Regions from separate parts of the Homo sapiens genome. Here regions 2, 3 and 4 are each linked to region 1. The links come from fine-mapping of genetic effects on gene expression. A gene starts in region 1. Each other region holds a variant in brackets. All regions are shown on one strand. Distances are from middle to middle. Region 1 holds the start of KAZN (kazrin, periplakin interacting protein). Region 2 overlaps KAZN (kazrin, periplakin interacting protein). Region 3 overlaps KAZN (kazrin, periplakin interacting protein). Region 4 overlaps KAZN (kazrin, periplakin interacting protein).

Region 1 (5,461 bases):
TTTTTTTTTTTTTTTTTTTTTGCACAGGTTCCAGTGGAGAATGTTCTTTCGCACACAATGACATTGCAAGGATGACAAGAATAACCACATGTCAAGCTTGCAGCAAGCACTAGGACCACAACACCTTCTCACCATTACGTCATGGCTACTTCCTTACCAAAGTACTCCCCCCAATTCCTAAGACTTCCAACAGGCTCCGGGAGTACCAAGTTAAGATCTGACTTGGAATTCGACATAAAACTGCACGTGGGCAGGCTTCACATCTCACCTCAAAGAAAGCACACCTTCCCAGGAAGATAAGGTGGAAACAGAGACTGATGGAGAGAACCAGATTCTTAGGAAAACAGACTCTCTCAACCCTCAAGAGAAGCTCTTGAAATGACAACAGAACCAGAAAATCATTTTGAGCCACTGAGCAATTGGTACCTTGCACTTCAAGTGACATATTTAGACAAGTGGACCTCATGGACTGGAGATTTGTTTCTGTCCTGTTCTGGATTTCAGCAGTTTAATTTGCAATTCAAATGATATTAATAACCAGTGATACTGTTTCTTAAAGGGCAATTAGGCAAAAAGAAAAAAAAAATCCCCCAAAGCCTGCTTACCCTTTTACTTTCTAAGTCACAGAAACCAAACAGTACATTTTAGGGAATGCCCCATCCGCCTTTATGTCTTGCAGGGGGTTTCAGAGCTTAATCTCTGTCAATGTGAACACAAACCAACTGTCTTTTTCTTCCTCTTCTCTAAACCGCAGAGTCCCTTCAAACGGGCTCCCTGCAGCCCACCACCCTAAGCCTTCATTTCTCTACCGCTCAACCTTTGAGGTCTACAGTATCCCCCTGGAAAGTGCTCTCGGTGTTTATATTTGCGGAAATTTAAACTCCCTGCTGAGCTGAGCATCTACTGTTGCATCTATAGATTCCAATGCCTGAGAGACCTCAAATGAGAAGAAAATAAAGTCCAGATGCAACTGAGCCAAGGGATTTGGCATCCGCGGAGAAAAGTGCACAGCAGTGCAATCCTCTATCCCAACCACGGCGGCAGAGCCCGGAGCTCTCTCTGGGAAGGAGCCTAAGGAAGTGGGGGGAACTGTGCCATTCACCCCTGCGGGGGGTGGGGAAAAGGCCCCGGCATGAAAAGTTTGCACGGAGCTAGGGGGCTGGTGCCACGGAAAGGGCACTTTCTGATGCCGGAAGGGACCCGCCGGCTGCGCCTCGCTCAGGCTGGCCGGGGCCGGTGTGACCGTGTGACCCCGTGCACACTGCGCTCGGGTTTTCGTGAATGACAGCAGCCTGCAACTCCCAGCCGGAGAGCAGCGGTGGCCACCGCCGGGCGGAAAGGGTTACAAGCCAGAATGCAAAGCGATTTCGCCCCGGGTGTGGGGGACCCCGGGTCCCCGGCCACCTCCGAGGCCGGGCGTGCTCTGCTCGCCTTCCTCCGCCCTGGGCGCCGGGGCGATCCTACCTTGCGCTCCAAGCTGGGGGTTCTCCATGTTCGTCGCCGCCGAGTCCCCCGCCGCCGAGGCGCTGGCCGCGGCTCCCGGGCCCGGGCCGGGGCCGCCGCCGCCGCTCAGTTCCGCCAGTCTCCGGTTGGTGGCCGTGAGTTCGGCTCGCAGGTTGGTCACCTCCTGGCTGGCCGACTGGACCGCCCCATCGATGCGGAGCGCGAGCTGCTTATTGTCTTCCATCATGCTCAGGATTTTGGCCTGGGGGCGAGAGAGGTGACAAAGAGCTGCATGATGCGCGGGGGGCGCGCGGCCGGGCACCCCCGGCTCTACCTGTTGTGTCCTCCGCGGCCCGGCTTCGCCCGCGCCCCGACCCCCAGGCACCGGCAGCGCCGGTTCCTCCGGCACAGGAATGACAGCGGCGCCTCCAGCCCTAGCCGCGGCGGTGGCGAGGCGGCGGGGGGAGGAGGCGGAGGAGAAAAAAGAGGAGGAGAAGGAGGAGGAGGAGCAGCGATCGCCGAGACCCCGGCGGGCGGGCGCCGAGAGCTGCTCCAAGAAGGACACCGCGCGCCACCAGGCACTCTTTAAATGGAGCCTACCATTCGCCGCCGGCTCGGGAGGGGGTCTCGGTCGGAGGCTGGGGGCACCCTTGGCCTCCCGCGCCCCCGTACTTCGGAGACACACCCCCCGGGGGGGCGGAGGCGGCGGACGGCAGTCGGGAGGGGGCCAAGGTGGCGCCCCTGGCGAGGGGCAGGGGTCGCCTGGACCGAGGCCGGCCCTCTGTCCCCTCCCTTGAGCGGTGGGGCAGCCCCCGCCCTGGAGAACTGGTGCCCCGAGCCGTGCTAAGGTTGGGGAGGTGCTGGGTGCTCGGAAGAGAGGGTGCTTGGAAAGGGGGCCTCAGAGGGGAGCCGGGGTGGATCTCCATGGAAGGGAGACGCTTGCGCCAGCTCAGGAGTGGAGTTCGTGCTCCACCGGTTCCTTAAACTGCGAGTACGAAATCCCCAGAGGGGAGCTGAGCTGGTGCCCCGCGTGCCTCTCACTCTCCACCCCCCACCCGCAGGCCAGACCTGCGCTGCCCACCCCAGGAGGGAGCGCCTATCTTCCTCGGCGTGGGCCGCTGGTGCTCCCGCCTCTCCACAGCCCTAGCCCTGTGTGTGCATCCAGGTGGAGGAGCAGCCTTAGCCAGCTCCTAAGCTTCTTAGCCGGGCTGAATATTGGCGGGGACAGAGATGAGGTTGAGAGATAAGAAGGAAGGCGTCGATGGGGCTTCTTCCCTTTCTTCTACTGGGAGCAGAAGAGTTGAGCCCTGCTGCCTCAGTTTACCCATCCCCTCTTCACAGAAGAACTGAGGTAACCTGACGTTGATATGCCCTCTCCAGCTCCTCTTTCTCTCCCAGACCACAGGCTTTGCATTTTTCACTGGGGCCCTGGATTCCAGCCACCAGACCTTGTTACCATAGCAAACTTCATTCCATGCAAATAGGACAATTTAAAACAGCCAGCAACCCTCTGGTCAACAGGGCGCCATCATTCCAGCTCAGTCAACCTCCGGAGAGCAGCAAAGAGCAGATTGCAGAAGCCAGTGGGGTGCTGCGAGGAAAAATGAGGCTGCCCACCCTTCAGGTTCTTACAGGAAGCCCATAAGAACCAAGCAAAAACTGCGTGTAGAGTGCTTTTATATGCATTCTTATCTCTTGTGAGTGAGGATTATTATTCCCATTTTAGGGATAAGGAAACTGAGGCTCTGCATAGGGTTAAGCAATTTACTTAAGGGGCCCGCAGAAACCAGGTGACAGCGGGACTGGAAGAAAGTAATCATCTGATTGCAAGTTCCTCCTGCTGCGCCTTCAGGAGGCCTTGGATGATAGATTTCTCCCCCCTTTTCTGTGGAACCATAAAAACAGTCTTGCTCCATTCCCCTGTGACCACTAACAAGCTTTTGCAAGAGGGCAGGATTTGATGGTGGAGCATGTGGCAGGAAGACACAATTCTTCACTCTGTCCGCTCTGCTCAGCTAATGGGTCAGTTCGGGGATCGAACCCTGACCTTAACCTCATTAACACAAGTTCTTACCAACTGGACCAACCAAGGCACTTAGAACTGCTTAGTGTATCTGCAAACCAGGATTCAGTTCTTTGCAGTCTTTCAGTTACGTTATGGGGAGAGCATCAAAACTACAGAGCTGTGTGGGTCTTGAAAAGGGGGATGCCGTGGTGCAGCCATTGTGGAAAACATATTAGCAGTTCCTTGAACAGTTAAACATAGGATTACCATACGACCCAGCAAATCCACTCCTAGGTATATGTCCAAAACAAATATCCAAACAAAAATTTGTACATGAATGTTCATAGCAGCACTGTTCATTAGTAGCCAGAAGGCAGAAATAACCCAAATGTCCATCAACAGATGATTGGATGAACAAATTGCAGTATGCAATGGAATATTACTCAGCCGTGAAGAGTACTGATACATGCTACTACTACGTGGATGAAGCTCCAAAACATTATGTTAGTTGAAAGAAGCCCGACATAGAAGGTCACATATTATACGATTCAATTTATATGAAATATCCAGAATAAATAAATCCATGAAACAGGAAGCAGATTGGTGTTTGTCAGGGGCTGTGGGGAGGGAAGAATGAGAAGTAACTGCTTAATAGGTGCCGGGTGTTACTTTGTGCTGACTGATGAAAATGTTTTAGAACTAGACAGAGGTGGTGGTGGCACAACACGGTGAATGTACTAAGTGCCATTGAATTGTTCACTTTAAAGGGCTTAATTTCATGTTATGTAAATTTTACCTCAATCAAAAAGTCATATATGCAAATACACAAATAGAGAGGATGGGAATGTTTTGGAACTAGGGCTTCTGAGCAAACAGTTAAGAGTAGCTCTATTTAGAGGGCCGTGTGTGTGTGTGTGTGTGTGTGTGTGTGCGCACACGTGTGCGTGCACTCACACCTCTGGTATAGCACTCAGCAGAAGAAACAGTAATTTATCTGTTTATATGTCTCTCTCCCACTTCACTGGGAACTTGTGGGTGGGGGAAGGAGGGTTATCCGGCTTTTTATGTCATTCATCTTTGCGTCCTTGCCGCCCTAGCCCGTAGTAAGTGTTCTGTAAATGAATGCGTGTGAGTGTGTTTGTGTAGTAAACAAAGTGACCCAGTGTTACTCATTTTGCTCTTCAGTGAGATTATTCCCACACACCGGAATCTTCAAATCAAATCAAAACAAAAAAATCTAATAAGGAGAAAAGAAAAGACTCATTCCTTGAGCCCCTTCTCATCCCTCTATTTTTGAGGTTTCAAGAAGCTGCTTTAGAAACTCCTGGGGTGCCTCCTAGGATTTTAAGAATTTTATTTTTTGAGAGTTTTTTTTCCTAACATGAAAAAAAGGGGCTTTTTCCAGTTGTGTGTCCTTATGTTCACCCACACACCAAAGGACTAGATCTTAGATAGAAAGTCTGCAATCAATTAGCCTCTGCGGGTATACTTGATTTAAACCAAAAAGGTCTACCTTTCTTTTTTCTTTCTTTTTCTTTTTCTTTTTTTTTTTTTTTTTTGAGACGCAGTCTTGCTCTGTCGCCCAGGCTGGAGTGCAGTGGCGCCATCTCAGCTCACTGCAACCTCCGCCTCCTGGGTTCAAGGGATTGTCTGCCTCAGCCTCCTGAGTAGTTGCGATTACAGGTGCAGGCCTCCACACCCCTCTAATTTTTTTTTGTATTTTTAGTAGAGACAGGGTTTCACCAGGTTGGCCAGGTTGGTCTCGAACTCCTGACCTCAAGCAATCCACCTGCCTCGGCCTCCCAAAGTGCTGGGATTGCAGGCGTGAGCCACAGCGCTCGGCCGGGTCTACGTTTCTTATCCCCAGGCTTTACCACCGCTCCTCCGGAGGTGACCTCAAGGAACAAAACGGTTGCTATGTTTAACTTTTCAAGGAACAGCTAATATGTTTTCCACAATGGCTGCACCACGGCATCCCCCTTTTCAAGACCCACACAGCTCTGTAGTTTTGAT
Region 2 (5,461 bases), 270 kb before region 1:
CTGGTAGGGTTGGGCCTGGTGAGATTTCTTGCACACTTGGTTGTGGAGTAAGATTCATATATGTAATAATGAGAACAGTGTGGCCACAGTGACACATAGTGCCACACAACCTTCACAACAAATGCCCCCGATTGAGAGCTGACCATGGGCCATTAATTGTGCCAGATGTGAAGCTCCTCATCTCATGAAGCATCACAGCAGCTCATGAGGGAGTCACGGTCGTGAACCCCATTTAACAGATGAGGAAAACCGGGCCTGGGGGCTCACACCTGTAATCCCAGCACTTTGGGAAGCCAAGGTGGGCAGATCACTTGAGGTCAGGAGTTTGAGAGTAGCCTGGCCAACATGGAGAAACCGCGTCTCTACTAAAAATACAAAAATTAGCCAGTGTGGTAGTGCATGCCTGTAATCCCAGCTACTTGGAGGCTGAGGTGGGAGAATCACTCGTACCCAGGAGGTGGAGGTTGCAATGAGCCAAGATTGTGCCATTGCACTCCAGCCTGGGCGACAGAGCAAAACTCTGTCTCAATACAAACACACAAAAAACAAAAAACAGTTGAGGAAACAGGGCCAGAGAAGTTAAGCCATTTGTTCAAAGTCACACAGCAAGTGAGGAGCAGAGCTGGGACTCACCCTTCACCCTGTCTTAACTCCAAAGCCTGTGGTCTTTTGGTTTTGAGTAGAAGGGTCTGATTTTTCCCAGTATCCAGGCCCTAGACTCCATGTTCAAGGAATCTCCCCAGCAGTCGTCTGAAGGTCAAAGCCAAGGTCAAGGCCAGGCCCAGTGCTCCTGGACAGATACTGGGATTTTCCACAGAGATGAGACCCTGAGTTTTTCATCTCATTGGGGAAAAATCTGGACATTCTACCTTCCATGTGATTTTTCTTACCTCTCTGTCATTTTTCCCCGGATACCTTGGGATTAATGGCAAAGTAATGCCGGGGTGGGTGTTGGGTGGCTTCAGGAAGGAAGGGGCTGAGGGCAGGAGACCGGTACAACCCAGCAGCCACCACATGGAACAAGGCTTTTAATAACACTGGATTTTTCCAGCAGGTCTGTGCGCTAATTAAACCTGCTCCTCGCAGCCACTGCAAAATGAAGGGAGTCTCACCTGAAAGCTTGTAATTTGCCAACACGAAGGAGAACAGAAGCAAGTACTCAAACATTACCCACAACCACTGCTTTGGAATATTGATTAGCAAGAGACGAGGCACATGCCAGCTTTCAACCCCTCGAACCCAATCAGAATCAATATTTCTCTCCTCAGAGTGCAGAGGAGAAGACCCTTTCAATTCCGATCCAGAAAGAGCCCAGGGGCTGTGACATCTGCCAGCCCTACTGTCCTGTTCTGCTTCACTGAAAATGCTAGCATAGGTGAAGATATAAAAATTACAGAACTCATCAAAAGATATTATAAAGCCCCAGCCACACATCCTAATGACTCACAAAATGACTAGTCTCCAGCATGCAGCCTGTAATTAGAGCCTCGCTGTGCAGAATATACAGTCACAGCCCCTGCGTTGAGGCTCCATAAAGAGTCCAGAGTCTGACCCCTGAATTGTGCTCACACAGGGAAGGCAATGAAAGGTCGCGAGCTCACCCTGAGAAGTGAGAAAAAATCCTCAGAACCTGGAAGAGCTTGAGACTGTGCAAAAGGGAAGTGGAGATTTAAAGGAGCAAACTGGAAGGGTCAAGACAGGCAGGAAGGGGATGGTGGAAGCTGGAATACTAAACTTCGATCCCAACCTGCGGCTAGAATAGGATCCAGCTGTCATGGCTTTGGCAAGTCTGCGGTTCTCACTAGGACACATCCCAAGGTGCTAGCAGGAACTAGAGAAGGGGAATCTGGCATCCTGACTAGCATTTTGTGGGTACCCACAATACCACCGGGGCCCCCAAGCTGGAGTGGGGGACACAGATCAACAAGGGAAAAATCACCGAGTAGAACAGATGCACCCCCCCGCCAACCCCGATTCAGTTCTCTTATCTTGGCCCCATTTCGGATTATTTATTATTATTTTTACTTAGCTATTAAGTTTTTTAGAGTTGGGGTCTCATTCTGTTGTGCAGGCTGGAGTGCAGTGGCATGATCATAGCTCACTGCAGCCTTGAGTTCCTGGGCTCAAGAGATCCCCCCACCCCAGCCTCCCTAGTAGCTGGGACTACAGGCACACGCCACCATGCCTGGCTCCTCTTGGCCCCATTTCTGGAAGGACATGCAGAGATGAAGACAGCTGCAGAGGAGCCTACTAGATTCCCCTCCCCAAACTCAAAGTCTGCCCAGATGTTCTGGGTCTACAAGACTCCAGTTCACCCAGTGGAAAAGTGGTAATGGTTAGACATTCACTTCAAGAAGGGCCCACGGGGAAGTGGTTAAGATTTCAGCCTCTGGAGTCACTAATCTTGGTTTCAAATCCCAGGTCTTGTAACGTGTGGCCCTAGATGAGTTGCTCCAACTCTGAGCCTCAGTTTCCCCATCTATAAAATGGCTCCCATCCCAGGAAAGTGTTAGAAAGCCCACAGCCTGGTACCCTCTAATTGCCCAATAGATGCAATAGCAATTAGTAGTAAAGACAGCCATTGGGTCTAAGAACAGTTCCCCTCCAGTGGCCTCAGACGCAGCCCTGGCTGTGCGTATGTGATGCCATGTGTTTGCAATGCCTGCGTATGCGATGCCTGCGTATGTGATGCGTGCTATTTGATGCCTGCCTATGCGATGCCCGCCTATGC[G/A]ATGGCTGCGTATGTGATGCCGTGCTATGTGATGCCCGTGTATGCAATGCCTGTGTATGTGATACCGTGCGTATGTGATGCCTGTGTATGCAATGCTGTGCGTATGTGATGCCATGCTATGCGATGCCATGCCTGTGTGATGCCCACGTTTGTGATGCCTGTGTATCCAATGCCTGCATATGCGATGCCTGCCTATGCAATGCTGTGCTTATGTGAGGCTGTGCCTGCCCACTGCTGTCCTCCCTGTAGCCAGGTCATGTCTGTCTCCTCTCCACCTATCCAAGTGCAGTCCACAGCCTTATATACATCACTGGCTCAGCCCAGGAAAGCTGAGGACATAGCCAGGGACAAGCCCCAGACGAGGGGCCATGCCAGCTGACCTGCCTGCTGCCCTTTGCCCCAATGCCTCCATGCCCAGGGTGGGGGGGGGGGTGTCTTCAAAGACACCGAGTAAAGCAGAGACAGAAGTCACAGTCCTAGCAAAAGCACCTGAATAGGATGACTGCTGTTGTCATTAATAACACAAACAGCAGCACCTGACATCAGTCTACGGACAACTACGTGCTCTGTCATTTCATCCTCTCGGCGTCCTTGCGAGATGGAAGCTAGTAGTTTTCCTACTTCACAGAGCTGGAAACAGGCACAGAGAAGTCAAAAAGCCTGTCTTACCTGGAGCCCAGCTGGAGGATGCACCATCCCTGAACCCAACGGTAACTCTATCATCAGCACCATGGCCAGAGTCAGGTCCCGGGGGAATACAATGGTCTTGGGCTTTCTATTTTGGTGCCTGGTCTAAGTCTAGTGCAGTTTTTGTCCTCTGCTTCTCTCTCAGCCCACTCACAGCCTCAGTGCAAAATAAATCTCCCCACTCTCCCCACTCTCGCAGATCTCACAAAACAACAGACCTTCAAGGCAAAAGAGGAGGGAGAGGGGAGCAAAGGACTCCGAGAGGCCTCCACGCTCCATTGATCACAGGGCCCTGAACGTGGCTGCTCCCCTGCACAGGGAGGGCCCTGGCTGGGCCTTGGCCAAGCATTGTAGCAGAGGAGGCCTGGAAAAAACGAGCCCGAACTTGGGATTCAAGAGAAGGGCATTGCAAGGTCAGCAGTCCATCAGGGAGGCAGGGGCGTGGCCAGCCTCACTTAGCATCCTGCTTCTTTTCTGTCTTCTCCAATCCAAATTTATGCCATGACAATAACAGCATTCTCCATTATTGTGTATCTCCACTGATCTCAAGAGGTGTCCATAGACCAGGGTCTCCCCACAGCTCAGGCCAGCACAGATTCCATGCCTGGGGCCTCAGATTAGGTGTCCGGATGCTCATGGAGTGAGGCCCAAGGTCTTGGAAGGGCTGGAAGGACCTTTGGATTCATTTGGGTCTAGCAATTGTAGGATCAATGGTATTATCCTTCAACATTTTTTTTTTTTAAGAGACACAGTCTCAGTCTGTCACCCAGGCTGGAGTGCAGTGGCACAATCACAGCTCACTGCAGCCTCAACCTCCTGGGCTCAAGGGATCCTCCTACCTCAGCTTTCTGAGCAGCTGGGATTACAGGTACATGCCACCATGCCCAGTTCATTTTTTATTTTTGGCAGAGACGGGGGCAAAAGATGTTGCCCAGCTGGTCTTGAACTCCTGGATTCAAACACTCCTCCTGCCTTGGCCTCCCAAAGTGCTGGGATTACAGGTGTGAGCCACTGTGCCAGACCCTTCCACAAATTCTTGTATGTTAACTGCATGCCAGGCTCCAGGGACAGAAGGATGACAAGATGGGCATAGACCTTGACCAGGAGCTTATGGGACTGAGGAAGGGGCTCTCGCCAAAACTCAGGGAGATCGGGATGCTTGCTTTCTGTACAGGTCACCTGCTTTCGGTGAGGTAATTCATTGCATAGTCATCTATGTGCAAAGCGCTCTAAAGTAGGGGTTGGACAGGTGATGTGGGGATGGGACAGGAGAAGAGCTGAGTGGGGAGGGGAAGCTGAAAGAGAGTTCCAGGCAGAGGGAACAGCAGGTGCAAAGGGCATGGAATTGGGAGAGAGCTCGGCAAGTTTGAGAAGCTGAAAAAAACTTTCCCAGGGCTGCTATAACAAAGTGCCACAAAGCAGATGGCTCAGAACAACGGAAATGTATCATCTTGCAGTTCTAGGGGCTAGATGGCTGGGATCGAGGTGTCGGCAGGGCTGTGCTCCCTCTGAAGGCTTCAGGAGAGAATCTTTCCTGCCTCCTCCCAGCTTCTGGTGGTTTCTTGGCACTCCTTGGCTTGTGGCTGCCTCACTCCAATCTCTGCCTCTGTGGTCCCACGGCCTCCTCCCTGTGTATCCACGTGGCCTTCTTACCAGGACATCAGACCTTGGGATTAGGGCTCACCCTATTCCAGTAAATCTTAACTTGACTAGTTATAACCACAGAGATCTTGTTTTCAAATAAGGTCATGTTCTATCATTCCAGGTAGACATGAATTTGGGATGAGGGCACACATAATCCAACCCAGTACAGGCAGGATGGCTGGAGAGCAAGGGGGAGGGTGGTCGTAGAAGGGATTGCTATTCCTCAGAAAGAGATGAGACGTCTCTCTGGCTTTTGGTGGAGGGGGTCCCCTGGCAAGAAGAAGGGTGTTTTCTGGTTGCAGTCTCCAGGCTTCTGCCATGAGGGAAGGTCACCGCAGCAGCAGATGGCAGACATGGGGGAGGAGGGAGACCAGGAGAAGCCAGGGCGCAAAGATCTTG
Region 3 (5,461 bases), 280 kb before region 1:
TTTTGCATCTCTACATGTATGTATATATTTGGCTTAAGACAGTTTGGGTTGAATTTCTGTCACCTGAAACTCAAAAATGTCTGACTAATACAAGTTGGTTTCAACTTGCCCAAAGGCTTTCTTACTTTCTTTAGTTCATGTCAAAGTAGATGACTTTGCAGTATTCTAAGTGGTAAGACAAGACTTCCCCAAATCTAGACATGCCTATCTACAAAAAGGTCTGGAGGGAGAATAATAACAGCTAACATTTATTAGCTCTGTGTGACAGGCATCACTTTAAGTGTTTTACGTAGATTACTCATGGATCCTCAAAAGCATACCAATTTTTGGTACTATCATTAGCATCATTATCCTATTTTAGAGATGGGCAGACTAATGTAAACAGAGAAGGTGGGAAGCATACTCAAGGTCACAGAGCTGGTAAGGGGCAGAGTGAGACTTGAATCCAGGCAGTCCAGCTCCAGACCCCACTCCCTCCACTTAACTACTACACAACGCTGTGTCTGCTTCCCCTGCAAAGACCTGCACAGGAGTGATGGTCCTAAACCCAGGTTCCTACCTGCAATTTCAAGGTGTGTCCTCCCAAGCATCTGTTCTTTGCTCTGTTGCCAAAGGCATGTTTAATCACCTGCCTAGAGTTCCTTTCCTGGCTTGCATAATAATGAGCCCACAGCAGCTACTATCGCTAATGTCATTCTGGCTGCTGGCTGCATTTGCGCATGTAATAAACGCAGCTACCACAAGATTGGAAATTGGACAGGTGACAACAGAGGCTGTGATTGTGCAGATCAGATTGAGGACAGGGAACTGATAACACTGACAATTCCATAAAGCCATCACCTCATCTATTGTTTCTCACCTCCGCGGCAAGCCTCTGAGGTGCCCTAATGAGGTAAGATCCTAACATCTGTTAAGATCACAGTCCCACTTGGCTTGTCTGGGCTTTCTTCTTCCTCCTTGCCTCAGTCAAACAACTGCTTTTAATCTCTCCATTCAGAGGAGCGGCTCACTCTCACTTCACTGTCATCACACAGAGCTTGAAGCAGGGGGTGTCAACTGTGAAAGTTTGCAGGGCAACACATCTTCCCGAGCATCTCTGTTGATGTGGCAGTCATGCCTGGGCTGAAATCTACCCCCTTCCAGGAAAGCAGGAAATTCCCGAGGTCACACTTCAGATTGATCTCAGAAAACCTCTTTCTTGATAGTGAAGGCAACAGGCAGTGGTGTACTGGCAAGTGTTTAACAATCAACTGTGGAGGGTTGGGCGAAGGAGCCCTGATTTGTAGTCATTGCCAGTTTCCATGGTGTACGTACTCTCATCATCAATTTTAAGCCACCAGTATGAGGCTTATAACATTCCTGAAAATGTAACTATTGGCTCTCAGGAGCCTGGAGCAGACCCCAGCACATCCTGCGTAGGAAGCCTGGTCTGTGCCTCATGCCTCCTAAGAATCCAGTGATTTTCACTATTAGGAGAAGGAAGAAATGGCTTCATTGAAAATAGTTTTTTTTTCTTTTTTCTTTTTTTTTTTTTTTAATAAATTAAGGACAATGCAAGGCAGGGAAGACAAGAGTTCAGCTTCCATGCTCACCCAATAAATGATAACAACAACCAAATAAACCCATAAAAAGATAAATAACATTTACATAAAATGTCTTACAATTTTTTTTTTTTTTTTTTTTTTTTGAGACAGAGTTTCACTCTTGTTGCCCAGGATGGAGTGCAATGGCATGATCTCGGCCCACTGCAACCTCTGCCTCCCGGGTTCAAGTGATTCTCCTGCCTCAGCCTCCTGAGTAGCCGGGATTACAGGCATGCACCATCATGCCGGGATAATTTTGTATTTTTAGTAGAGACGGGGTTTCTCCATGTTGGTCAGGCTGGTCTTGAACTCCCAATCTCAGGTGATCTGCTTGCCTCAGCCTCCCAAAGTGCTGGGATTACAGGTGTGAGCCACCGCACCTGGCCACAAATTTACAGATATATCTGAGACCTTTCCTCATTTGGCTTTAACATGGAGGAATCTCCAGGGACCCCCACTTGCAGAGGTAGGTGGCTGCGCAAATCTGCTCTTCCAGAAAGGAAGGGAGATTTGGCAAAGCATCAGTTTGGCAAATGGAAATACAAAACCAAGTAAGTCTAGGATCCCAGAGTTAGTTTTTTTTCCTCTCATTTTCTTCCTTTCCTTTCCCTTCTCAAACCTTAAAAGGGGAAACATTCGACCAAGAGCATTATGGGTAATCCAGAGAAGGATAATCAAACCAGAAGATGTCAAGATTCTCATCTTATAGCAAACACAGGTCACACCAGGATTTCTGGGCTGGATCCAAAAAGTTGGGTGAATGGAGAAGGAGATTGGTTTTGACAGCTTTTGGTTCTGGCACACGGAGTGTCAGGCAACAGTTGCTTAATTGCTGTCACAGGTGACAAGATGGTGCAGTTACCTGCAGTAGTTAAGTTAGCTGCAGTAGTTAAGTTAGCCTTCCATCCATCTGTCCATCCATCCATCCATCCATCCATCCATCCATCCATCCATCCATCCATCCA[G/TCCATCCATCCAG]TCAGCCAGCTAGCTAGCGATTCATGCCACCATTCCTCTGAAACAACTCAAGGTCACCAATGACATTATTAAATCCAGTGGTCACCTTTCCAGCCCCTCTTACTTAATCTGTCAGCAGCATCTAACAGTTGAACACTCTCTTCCGGACACATGTCACTTCTCTACTGGTTTCTTCCTACCTCACCAGCTGTTCCTTTTCAGTAGCCTTTGTTGGATCCTCTTCCCCCTTCCGACCTCCAAATGTTGGAGGACTCCAGAGCTCAATCCTTGGATTCTCTATCTGTACTCACTTGTCTGGTATCGTGGCTTTAAATATCATCTGTATATGCTGATGATTCCCAAATGGATATGACCAGCCCTGTCCTCTCCCTTGAAATTTGGACAGTCAACTCTCAGATGATTAATAGACATCTCTAACCTAGCATACTCCAAACTGAGCTCCTGATTTCCTCCTGGCCCACCCCCTCTAAACTCGCTCCTGCCCCTGTCTTCTCTATTTCAAGAAATGACAAGTGCTTTCCTTCCAGTTACTCAAGGGTGCATCTCTGGAATCATTCTGGACTTCTCCTTTTTCTCCTACCCACCACATCCACCACGTCAGTTCTGCTGGCTCTACCTTTGAACTAGATACTGAATCTCGCCACTTTGCCCCACTTTGCACTGCTCTCTCCCTGGTCCCAGCCACCACAAACTCATGCCTAGATGATTGCAGTAGCTTCCTTATTTGTCTCCGGCACCTGCCTTTCCTCCCTAGAGTCTATTTTCAACACAACATAAATATATGTCAGATCCAATCCCTCCTCTTCTCAAAGCCCACCACTGGCTTCTCATTTCACTGAGAGGAAAGCAAAGTCTTCCAAAAGCCTGAAAGGCCCCTGGCTCCCTCTGACCTCCTCTCCTTTTACATTTCCTCTCCTCCCACACTCTGGTTTAGCCATGCTAGCCTTCTTCTGTTCTCTCTGCTTTTCCCTCAGATCTCTGCATAGCTCACTTCCTCCCTTCCCTCAAGGCTTTCTCAAATGCTGCTTTACCAAAGAGACCACCCTATGTGAAACAGCAGCCCCATTATTCTGCATCCCTCTTCCCCACTTTATTTTCCTTCATAGTGCTTACTGCTACTAGAAATTCTTTATGCTATTTGTTTTCTTCTTGAACATCTGACTCTCCCCTTTAGAATACAGTCTTTCTGAAAGCAGGAGCTTTGTCTGTGTTATTATTCTATCCCTAACTACTTGAATAATGCCTAGTGCATAGCAGGTGACAGAAGGAATGAATGGATGAATCCATCCACCCATCCATTCATCTATCTGTCCATCCATCCATCCTTCCATCCATCCATCCATCCACCCATCCATTCATCTATCTGTCCATCCATCCATCCTTCCATCCATCCATCCATCCACCCATCCATCCATCCACCCACCGATTCATCTATCTATCCACCCACCCATCCATCCATCCATCCATCCATGTATCCTTCTATATGTTCTTCTACTCATCTTTCCATCCATCCATCCATCCATCCATCCATCTATCCATCCATCCATCCATCCACCCAACCATCCATTTATCCATATATCCATTCACCCATCCATCCACCCATCTATTCATCTATGTATCCGTCTGTACATCCATCCATTTGTCCTTCCACCCATCCATCTGTACGTCCATCCATCCATCCACCTATCCATTCATCTGTCCACTTGTCCATCCATCCATCGAACCATCCATCCATGCAATAATTTCTTACTGGGATTCTGTATAGGTTCATGAGAGATCCATTATATTAATCCTTCAAATGTGAAGGGAGATGTCCAGAAATAAGACCATTTTAAGGATTTCAGGCCCCACTTAGATCAGTGGTTACAATAATTATGAGCATGAGCAAGACTTATTCACACAGTACCTGGCTTCATCATTGGAGCTTTCAATTAAGGGATGCAATGAATATTCCCTTATAGCACTTCACAGTTTACAAAGCAAACTGTAATGATCCAATTGAATAATCTAAAACTGCACTGTACAATATGGTTGCTGTTAGCCATATGTGGCTGTTTGAATTTAAATTCATTGAAATTAAATAAAATAAAAAATTCAGTTCCTTAGTCACACTAGCTATATGTTAATTGCTTAATATCCACATGTGGCCAGTGGCTACCATATTAAATAGAAAGTTCTAGGAAGTTCTATCAGACAGCACTGCTCCATAACCACCCTAAAGTAGTAGTTTATTATATCCCATTTTGCAGACAAGAAAACAAACCCAGAGAAGTCCCCCAGTCAGTATGAAGCAGAGGCTAGTCTTGAAATCTAGTCTTCTGACTCCAAGTCCATTATTCCTTCCAAAGAAGGGTAATTTAAGGGACTGGTGCCCACACGCTTGCACCCTAATTCAGCTTCTGATACAGGAGTGCAGGAATTTAGATGTTTATCTGCCAGCAATAGCCTCTTGCCTTGCTGTCTGCGCATATTCATGCCCCCTTCTTCTGGTAGCTCCCAGATGATTAACAGACATCTCCAGCCTAGCATGCTCCAGACTGAGCTCCTGATTTCCTCCTGGCCCACCCCCTCTAAACACCCCCATTCTCCCGGGTCACCTTTCTCTCCCCTACTCTGAGTCCATGACACTGAGACTCACGTGGGGCTGACCCCACTCTGATTCCAAGGGTCAGCATGTGAGCCTGTGACTCAGATCTGGTCAATCAGGATACTATGCCTTCAGGCCTTGGTGAATGAATGCAGTCAAAGAATTAACACCACACAGCATCAAGACACAGAGATGCAGGTGCACACACACACACACACACACACACACACACACTGCTGCTCATGTAGATGTCTCAGGCTCACTGCAGGTGATATTTTTAGTTCAGGCTGTGGGAGTTGGGGGTCAGATGCACAGAAAGCATCTTC
Region 4 (5,461 bases), 290 kb before region 1:
TGTGTACCCAATTCCAGGCACTGGGAATGCAGAGATGAATGATGCCATTCTCGGGTTCAAGAAGCTTAGAGTCTAGCAAGGACTGCGAATCAGCAATTAAGTGACCCTAACTCAGACTGAGAGGCCGGGAAGGCTCCAGGAGGAGGTGATGCTTGAGATGAGCTGGAAAGATGTGCCACATCGACAGTTAACGCCTGCAGGGCAAGTGTCACGTGCCATGAGGCACTCTACACCCTTGACGTCCCTAACACATTCAGTCTTCCCAGGGACCCTAACACAGTGAGGACTGTTACCATTTCCCCATTTCTGTAAATGGGGAAACTGAGGCACAAAGTGATTCAGAAATTTTTCTGGGATTGCACAGCTGATTGGGAGTGAGTTATAAAGCGGGAGTTAGTGAGCCAGGTGCTGAAGGAGGAGAAGGAACAGCAAATGGCAAAGCAGGGATGGAGGATGCAGGAGGAGCCATCTGTCGGGTCAGGCAGGCGAGGCTGCGGCAGAAACTGTAGGCTGGAGCGGGGGAGATGGGGGTGAGCTAGGGAGGGGAGATGGTGGCAGAGCTGGGCAGGGGAGATGGGCGTGATGGCAGGCAGGAGGTTTGCAATTAGATTCACGTACTGTGATGCTTTGAGTGGCAGCACCCTGGGCTCTGGTGGGTCAGAGAAGTGGATTTGGGGGACAGTTAGCTTGAAATCAGCAGCCAGAGGTCCCTAAGTGCTGATTAATTATACTCTTCATCAACTAGCACCTCCCTTTGTAGCTGGGTCTGGAGCCGGGCTCCGGCTGCCACATCAATATTTCAGATGTGTCTTCTTTTCGGCTAAAAATGAACTTGTCATTTGCACAAGTTTTGAGACGTCCCAGTAAGCAAGTCTGTCTGCTCCTGAGCTGGGGCAAGACTTTTATGTTCAGAGGGTGCCTCCCTTGTGAAAGGGACTTTTCAAATGATCCTTGTACCTTAAACATAGGCTGAAGCGGGCACAGATTGATTCTGCCCACTCTGACCTCTGACCCTTTGTGGCTTTCTGGCCTCAGGGTCTGAGACCAAGGGTGATACAAAACTCCAGACACAATATGGTCAGAAGGAGATTTTCCAATTCTCTCCTTCCCCAGCCTGTAGGGAGAGCAGTAGCAGTAAAGGCGAGGGGGCCATCAGTCAAGGTTAGGGTGTGGAGGAAGGGAAGATGGGGGTCTCAGCGAGCGCTCTTCCTCTCACTCATCTTTCAGCATCAGCAAGGGCTTTGCTCCCTGGAGAAGCCCCCGTGACCTACTTCTCTGAGCAGGTCAAAGGGCCATCTGCCTCTCCTGTGGAGCTCCTCTCCCAGGGGCCATTTCTATTTTCTTTTTCTTTTTTTTTGAAACAAAGTCTCGCTCTGTTGCCCAGGCTGGAGTGCAATGGTGCGATCTCTGCTCACTGAAACCTCTGCCTCCTGGGCTCCAGAGATTCTTCTGCCTCAGCCTCCCAAGTGGCTGGGATTACAGGCACGAGCCACCACGCCCAGCTACATTTCGCATTTTTAGTAGAGACAGGGTTTCACCATGTTGGTCTGGTTGGTCTCGAACTCCTGACCTCATGATCCACCTGCCTCGGCCTCCCAAAGTGCTGGGATTACAGGCATGAGCCACCACACTGGCCTCTATTTTCCTTTTAAAAATGATTATTTGACTTCCTCCTGTAGATCATCAGCCTTATGACAGTAGGGACCAGTCTAATCAGTCTAATTCTGTTCACTCTATCCTAGCACCTAGAATTGTGCCTGCTACGTAGTAGGTGCTTGTAAATATTTGTGGAGGACTGCATGAATGAGGAATAATCTTAGGAGACTGGTCCTTCCTCTGTCCATTCCTTTTTTCCTTTCTTCTGGAAGCTTTTGTGTGTGTGTGTGTAGGTATTGGAGATACAAGATGAGTGGGCTGGTTTGCCTGGGCCCAGGCCACCGGAGCCTGCAGGAGGCCCCCACAGCCCCGTGGCACAAGTGTCCTGGGCTCACCTGCCCAAGTCTGAGGACATGAACACACACCCCTATGAACCCTGAGCCATGGGCAGGGGTGGTGGGCAGTGATGCAGACAGAGGTCATTCGAAAGCTTGCTCTGGAGACACCTTCTGGGGTGTCTCTGCAACCTTCTAGCACTTTCCCTTCCACTCTGTCCTTTGCAGACCTTGTAGAAAAACCTGTGGGGTGGGCTCCCATGGGCTGTCAGGGGAGGGAGAAGCTCCATGGTGGTGTCTGGGGGGAAACAAGCCTGAGATTACAGGCCTTCAGATGATCCAGGGATTGTAGGATACAGAGAGAAAGAGAGACAGCAGGGGGGAGGGGGAAAAAGGAGAGAGAGAGGGAAAAAGAGAGAGAGATGCCTCTGAAAGACAGATGCCTCTCTTCCCATAATGAAGGCACAGGAGGGCATCTTGGGACCTGGGTCATCAGAGATGGCTGGAGGCGAGCCCCGGGGCAGGGACTGAACTCTCTTCTGCCAGGAGTGTTTTCTTCCTGGAGTTCTGAGAGAATTTAGTGTTTGTGGCAGGTGCTGGGCTGGGCTCCCTAGAGACCTTGAGACTCCATTTGGGCCAGGAATGGGAGCACAGATGACGGCAGGGTCACCATCCCATCTGGGCTCTGCCTGCTGCCTTGAGGAGGCATTTACTTCAGGGGTCTGCACCACACCAGAGGCCAGAGGCAGGAGGTAGGGACGGGGGCATGTTGAACTTTCCTGACACCTTCCAGTAGCTTCTGGGTCATAGCAACAGGCAGGGCCAGATGTAAGAC[T/C]CCCTGACACCAAGAAGCCTCACATAATCAGAGCCGACTAACGGAGGCTCATGGACACGTCTTACTGCCCCATCCCACCCCCAACCATGGAAATAACTTCAGAGATTTCTTTTTCATTTTAGAAGAAATAGCTATTCATTGCATAAAATTCAAACAAGTTGGAGAAAGTACAAAGAAAAAAAAAGTATAAATCACCTGTAAAATCCCACTACCCCCGTTAATACTTTTTTGGCTTTTCTTCTCTCCTAAAGAAACATAATGACATAGAATTTTCCAGAAATCAGCATGACACAGGCTAACTTGCTTTTAGAAAAAACAATTCAACGGTATTCCATGGACATTTTCCCATGTAAATAAATACAGTGTTAAAGCAGTGGTCTTTAACTGCTTTAGCCCAGCACACACATGGGAAGTGCTGGGAAGCTTGTTAAAATACAGATTCCTTACTACTCAGCCATAAAAAGGAAAGTTAATGGCATTCGCAGCAACCTGGATGGGATTGGAGACTATTATTCTAAGTGAAGTAACTCAGGAATGGAAACCCAAACATTGTATGTTCTCACTCATAAGTGGGAGCTAAGCTATGAGGACGCAAAGGCATAAGAATGATACAATGGACTCTGGGGACTCAGGGTAAAGGGTGGGAAGGGGGTGAGGGATAAAAGACTACAAATTGGGTTCAGCGTATACTGCTATGGTGATGGGTGCACCAAAATCTCACAAATCACCACTAAAGAACGTACTCATGTAACCAGACACCGCCCGTTCCCCAAAAACCTATGGAAACAATAAATTTTTAGAAATACAGATTCCTGCCAGGCGCGGTGGCTCACACCTGTAATCCCAGCACTTTGGGAGGCCGAGGCGGGTGGATCACGAGGTCAGGAGATCGAGACCATCCTGGCTAACACGGTGAAACTCCATCTCTACTAAAAATACAAAAAAGTTAGCCGGGCGTGGTGACGGGTGCCTGTAGTCCCAGCTACTCTGGAGGCTGAGGCAGGAGAATGGCGTGAACCCGGGAGGCAGAGCTTGCAGTGAGCTGAGATCCGGCTACTGCACTCCAGCCTGGGCGACAGAGCGAGACTGCTTCAAAAAAAAAAAAAAAAAAAAAAAGTCCAGATTCCTGGCTGGGCACAGTGGCTCATACCTGTAATCCCAGCACTTTGGGAGGCTAAGGTGGGAGGATTACTTGAGCGTAGGAGTTTGAGACCTGCCTGGGCAACACGGCAAGACCCCAGCTCTAGATTAAAAAAAAATACAGATCTTTGGGTCCCATTCTGAGATTCATCAGTGGATCCGCCGTGGGGCCCGGAAGTCTGTATACTGAGAAAGCCCACAAGAGGACTCTGATTCACGCCCGTCATTCAGAATCCTGATCTATGGCCTGCCTTTAAAAATAACCTTCTCTATCTTTTTAAAAGGCGGGCAGAAAGGAAAAAAAAAAGATTTAAATTTGCTATCAGGAATTTTAAAAATGTTCAGCTTTTAGGGGATGTCACAGGTTTGACAGATTCAGTTTCTTTGTCCTATACTTTTTGCAGCGGGACGATGTCCCACTGGTGGGGACTGGTGCCCGGGAGATTCTGGGTCTGCGTGCCATTCTCGGGCAGTGGAGAGATTTCCCATCAGGAAAATGGGCTTTGCACACAGCTGAGAAACCTCTCCCCAGGGGCAATCCAGAAAGAGCTTTTTGTTCAATCTTCCATTAAAGAGAAATTTCAATTGCCTTGACCAGCCAGAGCATTCCAGCTGACCAGGCTTGACTTGCTTACCCAAAACCCAAACTCGCAGAGCAGGGAAGGGAAAGGCGACTGTTCAGCAAGTTCTGGGAAGCCCCCTCAGGGTCCCTGTGGTAAGCTTCCCGAATCATCTCCAACTGCATTCTGACCTGGGTCTAGGCTTCTCCCTAACTCTTCCTGTGTTCTGCAGGTTGACGACATAAAAAGCCCATTGTAACTCTTCAAGAGGCTGATGTTTGGCTCGAGCGTACGAGGTACTTCTTTTCACTGATGATACTACCCGACACAGTCTGCTAGTTGCCATATTTTGTCATGTAAGACAGGCTTTTTCTGCAAAGGGCCAGGAAGTAAATATTTTCAATGGTCTCTGTCCCAACTGCTCATAAATACATGGGCAAGGCTGTGATCCAGTAACATTTTATTTATGGACACTGCAGTTTGAATTTTGTATAAATTTCACATCGTGAAACATTCTTCTGATTTTTTTCAACCATTTAAAAGTGTACAAACATTCTTGGTTGGTGGGCTGGATTTGGCCTGTGGGCTGTAGTTTGCCAAGAGAAAGCTGGACAGGAATTAAGGAAGGAAGGGTAGGCAGGGGCAGACTTTTCCAGAATTAGAGCTGTACCCCAAGGGGGAATTCTGTCCTAGGAGACAGTGAGTGCTAAGTACACTCTGGACAAGCACCAGACACAGAAGCTGCCTCAGTTTGTGCTCCCCCTGCAAAGCAGAGCCTGAGACAAGGATTTGGGTACAAGGAGTTTCACTCAATATTATATTTCCAAGATGCACCCATGCTTTATATGGCTATAGTGCATCCATTTTACTGCTTTATACTTTCCATTAGGTGACTATATTAGTATATATTTATAATTCCTAGGTCTTTTTGTTCTCTTATTTGTTAATAATTATAAACTCCAAGCCCATTGTGGTAGATTGCTATTTCTCAGAGA

The links. PIP is the estimated chance that this variant, and not a neighbour inherited with it, causes the effect.
Region 2: its variant is fine-mapped to the expression of KAZN in whole blood (TOPMed, PIP above 0.99).
Region 3: its variant is fine-mapped to the expression of KAZN in whole blood (INTERVAL, PIP above 0.99).
Region 4: its variant is fine-mapped to the expression of KAZN in whole blood (INTERVAL, PIP above 0.99).

The regions. Positions count from the first base shown.
Region 1 is chr1:14,595,227-14,600,687 of GRCh38, reverse strand. It overlaps KAZN (kazrin, periplakin interacting protein), which reads right to left and starts at 2,003. Exons shown (of 15, transcript NM_201628.3): 1 at 1,465-2,003. The coding sequence starts at 1,690. RefSeq lists a silencer at 1,177-1,336.
Region 2 is chr1:14,865,427-14,870,887 of GRCh38, reverse strand. All of the region lies in intron 1 of KAZN (kazrin, periplakin interacting protein), which reads right to left. Among named protein-coding and RNA genes, the nearest start is that of KAZN, 270 kb to the right of the region's middle. RefSeq lists an enhancer at 2,283-2,783. The variant G/A (reference allele first, on the strand shown) is at 2,732.
Region 3 is chr1:14,871,558-14,877,018 of GRCh38, reverse strand. All of the region lies in intron 1 of KAZN (kazrin, periplakin interacting protein), which reads right to left. Among named protein-coding and RNA genes, the nearest start is that of KAZN, 280 kb to the right of the region's middle. The variant G/TCCATCCATCCAG (reference allele first, on the strand shown) is at 2,549.
Region 4 is chr1:14,889,262-14,894,722 of GRCh38, reverse strand. The region is part of intron 1 of KAZN (kazrin, periplakin interacting protein); the gene reads right to left. It overlaps LOC107985469 (a long non-coding RNA gene), which reads left to right. Exons shown (of 3, transcript XR_001737616.2): 2 at 4,699-4,762. Among named protein-coding and RNA genes, the nearest start is that of TMEM51-AS1, 260 kb to the left of the region's middle. RefSeq lists an enhancer at 1-899. The variant T/C (reference allele first, on the strand shown) is at 2,767.